Linked DNA regions of Homo sapiens. The protein of the gene in region 1 binds, or shares a complex with, the protein of each later gene. Each region holds a gene or a part of one and is shown in the gene's direction. Other genes may lie near its edges.

Region 1 (7,308 bases):
TCGTGATCAACTCTGCATCTCTGTTGTCTCAGTGTCTTGAAATGATTAGCACTCATGGGCCACGCTACTCTGAGCAAATTTAAAGTATCAGAGTGCCTGAGACTAGATAGTGGAAGTACTCGGGAGTCAGGGCTAGATTATCCTGTAGGGAAGGGAACGTGAGCCATTGAAGAGTTTTAGCAGACAGTCACAACTTTACCTTATTTCCAATCTTTGGAAAACAAAGGGCTTAAGGTAAAAACTTTGTGGAGCCATTAAGCTGGAAGAGGATTCAGCTCTATCTGGTGAATTTTAAAATGTTAAAAATATTCTATATTGTCTTCTTCCAGGAACTTTCACATTCATTCAGACTTTGTAGTTTCCACATTTATTTGTCCAGTTGATACAGCATTTCAGATAGTTTTACTGTTGAAAATTATAAGGACATTTGCCCTCCAACTATGATTGTATATTCCATGATAATAATTTTGTTTCTTTTATACCCTATCAGCAAAGACTCTTGGAACTGTAACGCCCAGAAAACCTGTCTTATCTGTCAGTGCAAGAAAAATTAAGGACAATGCGGCTGATTGGCACAATTTAATCCTGAAGTGGGAAACCCTCAATGATGCAGGTTTTACCACTGCAAATAATATTGCCAACTTGAAAATCAGTTTATTGTAAGTACATATTGGTTTTTCATGCTCTAAGTTTTTCACCCTTAATAACTGGGGAAATAATGTGAATAAATTTTAAAATAAAATATTAAGCAAAAAAAGCAAGTGGTAAGATGATACGTGTAAGTATAAATTGTATTGTACATTTTAAATACAAAATTATATTCCATATATATATATATATATATATATATTTAGTTATTTATTTATTTATTTTTTTGGAGATGAAGTCTCACTCTGTTGCCTAGGCTGGAGTGTGATGGCGCGATCTCAGCTCACTGCAACCTCTACCGCCTGGGTTCAAGCAATTCTCCTACCTCAGCCTCCGGAGTAGCTGGGATTACAGGCGCCCGTCACCACACCCAGATAATTTTTGTATTTTTAGTAGAGACGGGCTTTCACCATGTTAGGCTGGTCTCGAACTCCTGACCTTACGTGATCCACCTGCCTCAGCCTCCCAAAGTGCTGTGTGAGCCACCGTGCCTGGCTATTCTGATTTTTAAAACCACAGATTCTTTGATTCTTTTGTAGTTCATAGGCATAATGATTGGGTTTTCATGCTCATGTATGACCTGTGCCTTCCTCAAACTTTGCTATGATGTTGGCACATTACCTAGCTGATATGGAAAAAACTACCATGAATTCTTTTCATCCATTTTTGGATTTTACGTAAACAAAAAACATATGTTATTGTTTCCTTTATATCTCACTTTCTTTTTCTATTTTTTATTTTTTATTTTTGGAGACGAGTCTCACTCTATCCCCCAGGCTGGAGTGCAATGGCGTGATCTTGGCTCACTCTAACTTCTGCCTGTCAGGTTCAAGTGGTTCTCCTGTCTCAGCCTCCTGAGTAGCTAGAATTACAGATACCTGCCACCATGCCCGGCTAATTTTTGTATGTTTAGTAGAGACAGAGTTTCACCATGTTGGCCAGGCTAGTCTCAAACTCCTGACCTCAAGTGATCTGCCCACCTTGGCCTCCCTAAATGCCGGTATTACAGGCATGAGCCACTGCGCCCAGCCATGTCTCACTGTCTTTCAACATGGAAGCCATGCGTGTAATGTAGAGCCACTATTCTGGTTCTGTTCTTTCTCATTGCTGTTTAATAGTGTTTACCCACATTAGACCTCTCACACTGGTTTATCAACTAAGTTATATAATATTCTCAATCTTTTGTTGTCATTTCAACAGTGTGCACAGTGTCTTTCCCAGGAATAGATTCCATCTCAAGAAACCACCTTCTTTGCTCATCCATAAGAAACAATTCCTTATCTGTTCAAGTTTTCTCATGAGATTGCAGCAATTCAGTTCCATCTTCAGACCCCACTTCCAGTTCTGGTTCTCTTGCTTTTTCCACTGGCAGAGTAGATTTAACATCATTCTTAAGGGCCCTAGGAATTTGAGAATGGTAAATGAGCATTGGATTCAACTTAAAGTCACTAACTGCAATATCCCCTAATAAGAGGGTGAGCCTGTCTCTTGAAGCTTTGAAGCCTGTCATTGACTTCTCTGTAGTTGTGAATGTCTTGGATGGCATGTTCTTCTAATAGAAGGCTGTTTCATCTACACTGAAAATCTGTTGTATCATGTAGCCACCTTCATCACTGATCTTAAGTAGATCTTCTGGATAACTTGCTCCAGCTTCTACATTAGCGCTTGCAGCTTCACCTTGCACTTTTATGTTATGGAGATGGCTTTTGTCCTTAAACCTCATGAACCAAATCCTGCTATCTCAAACTTTTCTTCTGTAACTTCCTCATATCTCTCAGCCTTCACAGAATTGAAGAGAGTTAGGGTCCTGCTGTGGATTAGGCTTTGACTTAAGGGAATGCTGTGTCTGGTTTGATCTTCTATCCAGACCACTCAAACTTTCTCCATATCCACACTAAGGCTGTTTCACTCATCATTCACATGTTCACTGGAGTAGCACCTTTAATTTTCTTCAGTAACTTTTCCTTTGCCTTCACAACTTGGCCAACTGTTTGGCACAAGAGGCCTGGTTTTCAGCTTATCTTAGCTTTTTTTTTTTTTTTTTTGTAGAGATGGAGTCTCGCTCTGTCGCTCAGGCTGGAGTGCAATGGTGCAATCTTGGCTCACTGCAACCTCTGCCTCCCGGGTTCAAGCAATTCTCCTGCCTTTGCCTCCCAAGTAGCTGGGACTACAGGTGCACACCGCCACGCCCAGCTAATTTCTTTTGTATTTTAGTAGAGACGGAGTTTCACATGTTGCCCAGGCTGGTCTTGAATTCCTGAGCTCAGGCAATCTGCCCGCCTTGGCCTCCCAAAGTGCTAGGATTACAGGCGTGAGCCACCGCACCTGGCCCCTTATCTGAGCTTTTGACATGCCTTCCTCACTAAGCTTAATCATTTCTAGCTTTTAATTTTTTTGTTTCTTAAATTGGCCAAAGTATAGCTTTTGATTTAAAATGAGAGATATGCAACTCTTCCTTTCACTTGTACACTTAGAGGCCAATGTAGGGCTATTAATTGGGTTGATTTCAGTATCCTCCTATTTCAGGGAACAGGGAGGCCCAAGGAGATGGGGAGAAAGGGGAGCAGCCGGTCAGTGGAGCAGTCAGAACACACAACATCCATTCATTAAGCTTGCCGTTATATATGCACATGGTTCATGGCACCTCAAAACAATTAAACTAGCAATATCAAAGATTACCAATCACAGATCATAGACATAATAATGAAAAAGTTTGAAATATTGTAAGAATTACCAAAATATGATAGAGAGACATGAAGTAAGCACATGCTGTTGGCAAAATGGTGCTGATTGACTTGCTCTACATACAGAGGGTTGCCACAAACCTTCAATTTGTAAAAAATGCATTATCTATGAAACTGAATAAGGTGAAGCACAATAAAATGAGGCGTGCCTATATTCCTGGATTGTGAACTCTTTGAGGAAATGATCCATGTCTTATTCATCTTTGTACATCCAGCACCATGCCCTATGCCAAGGATGCCACACCGCTGAATGGTGTTTTTTTTTTTTTTGAGACAGTCTTGCTCTTTTGTGCAGGCTGAGTGCAGTGGTGCTATAATGGCTCACTGCAGCCTTGACTTCCTGGGCTTAAGTGATCCTCCCACCTGAGCCTCCTAAGTAGCTGGGACCACATACGTGTCCCACCATGCCCAGCTAATTTTTACTTTTAATTTTTGTGGAGATGAGGTCTCACTGTGTTGCCCAGGCTGGACTCAGACTCCTGGACTCAAGCAGTCCTCCCGCGTCCATCCCTCAAAGTGTTGGGATTACAGGCATGAGCCACCAAAACCGGCTGTCACATGGCTGAATTTAACTGACTTATTTTGGTGCAAAATTGAGTGACCAATGGACATATTCATTGCACATATAAATAATAACTGCATTTGTATCATAATGATATGAAAGAACAATGCTTATGCAAAATGTCCCACGTAACTATGTGGATATAGAGGTTTGTAGAATTTATTATAAGGAAATAAGGCAAGCTTAAAGAGTATATTTTGTACACATTATTTTCTATTTTGTTTAGGAATAAAGACAAGATAGAACTAGACAGCAGCAGCCCAGCCTCGAAGGAAAATGAAGAAAAGGTGTGTCTGGAATATAACGAGGAACTGGAGAAGCTGTGTGAGGAACTGCAGGCCACCTTGGATGGGTTGGTAAGACATAAAGACGCAGGCCACTTGTGGTCACTGTCACTGAATCCGATGGACGTATTTGGGGTTTGCTTGACCATTGGCCATCACTTACTCCTTCTCAGTCTCCTCTGATGTTCTCTTCCTCTGCCTGCTGCGTAAACCTTAATGTTCCCCAAGATGCTGTCTTAGACACTCACTCCTCCTGTGCGTCATCCGGGGAAATGTCACCCACTTTCAGGGCTCATCACATAGTAAATTTTTTTTTTTTTTCCATGATATGGAGTCTTGCTTTGTCGCCCAGGCTGGAGTGCAATGGCGTGATCTTGGCTCACCGCAAACTCCGCCTCCTGGGCTCAAGCGATTCTCCTGTCTCAGCCTCCAGAGTAGCTGGGACTACAGGCGTCCGCCACCATGCCTGGCTAATTTTTGCATTTTTAGTTGAGACAGGGTTTCACCATATTGGTCAGGCTGATCTCAAACTCCTGACCTCAGGTGATCCACCTGCTGGCCTCCCAAAGGGCTGGGATTACAGGCATGAGCTACCACGCCCAGCCACAGAGTAAATATTTTAGGCTTCCAGGGCCAGCCAGTCTCTATCTCAGCTACTCATCTCTGCCACATAGGACTAAACAGCCATAGATAATATATGCGTAAATGGATGTGGCTGCATTCCATGAAAACTTTATCTTTGTTTTTTGGATTTTCTTTTTTTTTTTTTTTGAGATGGAGTCTCATTCTGATACCCAGGGTGGAGTACAGTAGCATGATCTTGGCTCACTGCAAACTCCGCCTCCCAGGTACAAGTGATTCTGCTGCCTTAGCCTCCCAGGTAGCTGGGATTACAGGCTCGTGCCACCACATGAGCTAATTTTTGTATTTTTAGTAGAGACAGCATTTCACCATGTTGACCAGGCTGGTCTCGAACTCCTGACCTCAAGTGATCAGCCTGCCTTGGCCTCCCAAACTGCTGGGATTACAGGCGTGAGTCACCGCACCTGGCCTTTTTTGTTTTTGTTTTTGTTTTTTTTGAGACAGGGCCTCACTCTGCCACTGAGGCTGGATGGAGTGCAGTGGCGAGATCTTGGCTCACTGCAACCTCCGCCTCCTGGGTTCAAGCAATTCTTGTGCCTCAACCTTCCACATAGCTGGGATCGCAGGTGTGCGCCACCATGCCCAGCTAATTGTTGTATTTTTAGTAGAGATGGGGTTTCACCATGTTGGCCAGGCTGGTCTCGAAGTCCTGGCCTCAAGTGATCCACCCACCTCAGCCTCCCAAAGTGTTGGGATTACAGGCGTGAGCCACCATGTTCGTCCAGGAAATCTTTATCTTTGGACACCGAAATTAGAATTTTGTATAATTTTTATGAGTCACAATCACTATTGTCCTTTTGGTTATTTTCAACCATTTAAAAATGTAAAAACCATCTTAGCTTATGGGCCATACAGAAATAGGCTATGGGCCAGAATTGACCTGTGTTCCAGGGATAGTTTGCCCATCCCTGATACAGCACGTAAGAGACTAAAGTGTTTGTTTAATGAACTAATAACTAAATTTCAATACCTACCATACTGGCCACCAGATGTGAAGATAACACCACCTTATTTCTTTGCTAGGCACAGGAAATCAGGTTTTACACATATTTGAACTTGGATAACTGAAGCTTACCCATAAACATTTAAGATCTTTATATTTTCACCTTTTTGTTTGTTTGGAGACAAGGTCTCGCTGTGGAATGCAGTAGTATGATCACAGCTCACTGCAGCCTTTACTTCCTGGGCTTAAGTGATCTTCTTGCCTCAGCCTCCCGAGTAGCTGGGACTACAAGCATGAACCATCATGCCCGGCTAATTTTTAAAATTCGTTTGTACAGACGGGGTTCTCATGTTGGCCAGGCTGGTCTCGAACTCCTGACATGAAGTGATCTTCCCACCTTGGCCTCCCAAAGTGCTGGGATCACAGGTGTGAGCCCTGGCGCCCTGCCTTAGCTTTTCCGTCATGTCTTGTTTTGGCTTCAGGATCCTGTATGACATCGAGTCCCCTTGTTTCCTCAGGCTCCTTTTGGCCGTGACAGTTTCTCAGACTTCCCTGTTTTTGATGACTTTGACAATGTTGAGGGATACTGGTCAGGTATTTTGTAGAACATCATGAGATTTATCTGATGTTTTTCTCCTAATTAGACTGAGGTTACGGGTTTTGTTCAGAGGAGGACCACAGAAGTAAAGTGCCATTTCTATCATGTCATATCAAGGGCACGTACTGGATATACTGTCATCAGGACTTTTCTTTGGGTCCCACCTATTGCCCGGGCTGGTCTCAAACTCCTGGGCTCAAGCAGTGCTCCCACCTCAGCCTCCCAAAGTGCTGGGATTCCAGGCGTGAGCCACTGTGCACAGCCAGGACTTTCCACTGCTGAAGTTGACCTTGATCACCTGGCTGGGCAGTGTTTCCAGGTTCCTCTGCTGTGACGTTGCTCTTTCTCCTCCTCCCACGCTGTGCTCTTTGGCAGGAAGTCACTATGCATAGCCCACACCTGGGGGTAGGGACGTATTCACCACCTGCTTGAGGGTGCAGTATCTACATAAATTATTTGGAATTATTCTGCGTGGGAGATTTGTTCCCTCCCTCCCATTTGTTAATTTTTTTTTTTTTTGAGATGGAGTTTCACTCTTGTTGCCCAGGCTGGAGTGCAGTGGGGTGATCTCTGCCCACTGCAACCTCTGCCTCCTGGGTTCAAGTGATTCTCCTGTCTCAGCTTCCCAAGTAGCTGGGATTACAGGTGCCTGCCACCACACCCAGCTAATTGTTGTATTTTTATTTGTTTTTTTTTAATTTTTGTTTTGGCCAGGCGCAGTGGCTCATGCCTGTAATCCCAGCACTCTAGGAGGCCGAGGCAGGTGGATCACCTGAGGTCAAGAGTTTGAGACCAGCATGGCCAACATAGTGAAACCCCATCTCTACTAAAAATACAAAAAATTAGCTGGGGGTGGTGGCAGGTGCCTGCAATCCCAGCTACTTGGG
Region 2 (2,888 bases), on another chromosome or scaffold:
GTAATACAGTGAGACCCCATCTCTAGAAAAAATAAAAAATTAGTCAAATGTGGTGTTAGTCCCAGCTACGTGGGGGACTAGTAGTCCCAGCTACTTGGGAGGGGGAGATGGGAGGATTGCTTGAGCCTGGGAAGCGAAGGTTGCAGTAAGATGAGATCGTGCCGCTGCACTCCAGCCTGGGTGACAGAGTGAGACTCTGTCTCTTAGGAAAAAAAAAAAGCTGAAGGAGTAGACAATGGCCAGGACACACGGGTCCTTGTAAACCACTCTAAGATACCCTTTTTCGTAAACTTTTACTAAATATAACATTCAGAAAAATGCACGGATCATAAGGGTACAGTTCATTGAATTAAAGTGATCACATTTTTATAATCACTACTTATGTCAAGAAATAGAACATTATAAACACCCCAGAATCTTCCTTTGGGCCCTTTCCCAACCTCTGTCACCTACCTTCTTCCAAAAGAGAACTATTGGCTGGGCTTAGTGACTCATGCCTGTAATCCCAGCATTTTGTTGGGGCCAAGGCAGGAGGATCATCTGAGCCCAGGAGTTGAGACCAACCTGGGCAACATGGGGAGACCCTGTCTCTACAAAAACTTTTAAAAAATTGTCCCAGCTACTCAGGAGGCTGAGGTGGGAGGATCACTTGAGCCTGGAGGTCAAGGCTGTAGTGAGCCATGATTGTGTCACTGTACTTCTGCCTGGGTGACAGAGCAAGACTCTGTCCCCCCCCCCCAAAAAAAAAAAAAAAAACAAAAAACAAAACAAAAGGGAACCACTCTCCTGACTAACAACAGTGGGGATTAGTTTTGTCTGCTTTTGAACTTTATATGAATGGAAGCATGTGGCATATGTTATTTTCTGTCTGGTTCTTTAACCTAAAAAGAAATTTATCCATAGTTTTGTGTGTAGCATAGTTTATAATATTCTAGTATATGAATATTCTACATTTGTTTATCCATTCTTTTATTTTGGAATATCTGGGTTTCTACTTTTTTGCTATTATGAGTTATGCTGCTGTGAACAGCCTTGTACATGTCTCTTAGTTCCCGTGTCTATTTATGTCTATTTGTAAACATAGTTAGCTACAAGGAGAATTGCTGGGTCATAGGGTATGTGTTTGATCTATTCCTTTATAATCAGTGCTGGCTGAAGACTCTTCCCTACTTAACGATCAGGAAGATATTCTCTCATCTTTAAAAATACATATGGGTTCATAAAATACATATTAATCTGCAACTTGCCTTTTCTTTCTTCTCATTTAATGCTTTCTTTTTTCCCATTAATGTAAAGAGGTTATGGTCTGCAAAGTGGATTTCTAATCACCTTATTTAACTTTTTAGCATAATGTTTTTAGTGACATGAAAATTAGAATCCTATGAAGTGAGGCTGAGATTTTCCATTCAGAGTTTAAAGTATTACCATATATTGTTAAAAAAAAAAGAAAAGAAGCCAGGCGCTGTGGCTCACACCTGTAATCCCAGCACTTTGGGAGGCTGAAGCAGGTGGATCATGAGGTCAGGAGTTCAAGATGAGCCCGGCCAACATGGTGAAACCCTGTCTCTACTAAAAATACAAAAATTAGTTGGGCGTGGTGGCAGCCTTCTGTAATCCCAGCTACTTGGGAGGCTGAGGCAGGAGAATTGCTTGAAACCAGAAGACGGAGGTTGCAGTGAGTCCAGATCGTGCCACTGCACTCCAGCCTGGGCAATAAGAGCAAAACTCCATCTCAAAGAAAAAAAAGCAAAAGAAATTGTTTTCTATTGCTTGTCTCTTAATAGGCTGCTTTGCTGGCTCTGCAAGAAAATGGACTAGACGCAACTACAGTGAAACAAGAGCACTTTCTAAAATCACTTAAGACTGTAAAACCGTCGTTAAGTTGCAAGGACTTGGCTTTATATGAAAACTTATTTAAGAAAGAAGGATTTTCTAACGTGGAAGGTATTTAAAAATCACCTTAAACTCTTGTTCAGTTCACATTAATTGAAATGTGAACTTGCCTGTCGTTTGCAACTTCACACTTTTAGAATTTGTGTTTATATTTCCTGTAAGTGAATAAATAAAACAAAACAAAACAAAAAAAACTTGTGCCTGATAAGCTAAGGCTCATTTATTTTTAAAAGGCATATTAAATAAAATACTGTAATTTAGGAAGAAAGTGTGTGTGTGTTGATTTTGTTGTAAGGGGTGGTTGGTTTTGGGTGATTGCTTTTTTATTAAACCCTGAAATAATTTCATACTTACAGAAAAGTTGCAAAAATAGTACAAAGAATTTTTATGTGCTCAAACCCAGATTCACTAATCTTTAACATTTTGCCACATTTGCTTTCTCTGTCTTCCCCACCCCTTGTACATATACACATACACACATTTTTTTTTGAGTGGTTTGAGAATAGATTATATACATAATGTCCCTTTCCCCCCTTAATACTTGAGTGTGTATTTGTTACAAATAAGGTTATTATATGACCAAATTCAGCAAATTTAATACTGACACAGTATTTTAATCTATCATCCAGTGAATTTCATGTATGGTCACAATAACGTCCTATATGGTAATTTTCCCCATTACAGGATCCAGTCTAGGATCACACATTTCATTTAGTCACCATGTCTCTTTAGCCTCTTAACTTGAAACAGTGTCTCAATCTTTCTTGACCCTGACATTTTTGAAGAGTATAGACCAATTATTTTATTGAGCAGTTCATTCCTGGACTTGTAGTTGATGTTTTATCATGGTAGATTCAGGTTATGTATTACCAGTCGAGCACTACATAGGGGCATTGTATTCTCAGAGTATCACAGCTGAAGGCACATGACATCTGTACCTTCTTGATAATGTTAATTTTGATCATTTGTTGGCAGTATTGTCTGGTTTCTCCACT

The links.
Region 2: CINP (region 1) and AFG2B share a complex: the UniProt entries of both Homo sapiens proteins name them as parts of the 55LCC heterohexameric ATPase complex.

The regions. Positions count from the first base shown.
Region 1 is NC_000014.9:102,352,770-102,360,077, reverse strand, and holds part of CINP (cyclin-dependent kinase 2-interacting protein), read left to right. Parts: intron 1-490; coding exon 491-659; intron 660-1,175; exon of another isoform or gene 1,176-1,279; intron 1,280-4,180; coding exon 4,181-4,310; intron 4,311-7,308. UniProt on the Homo sapiens protein: Component of the DNA replication complex, which interacts with two kinases, CDK2 and CDC7, thereby providing a functional and physical link between CDK2 and CDC7 during firing of the origins of replication.
Region 2 is NC_000015.10:45,419,259-45,422,146, forward strand, and holds the end of AFG2B (ATPase family gene 2 protein homolog B), read left to right. Parts: intron 1-1,784; coding exon 1,785-1,952; 3' UTR 1,953-2,157; downstream 2,158-2,888. UniProt on the Homo sapiens protein: ATP-dependent chaperone part of the 55LCC heterohexameric ATPase complex which is chromatin-associated and promotes replisome proteostasis to maintain replication fork progression and genome stability.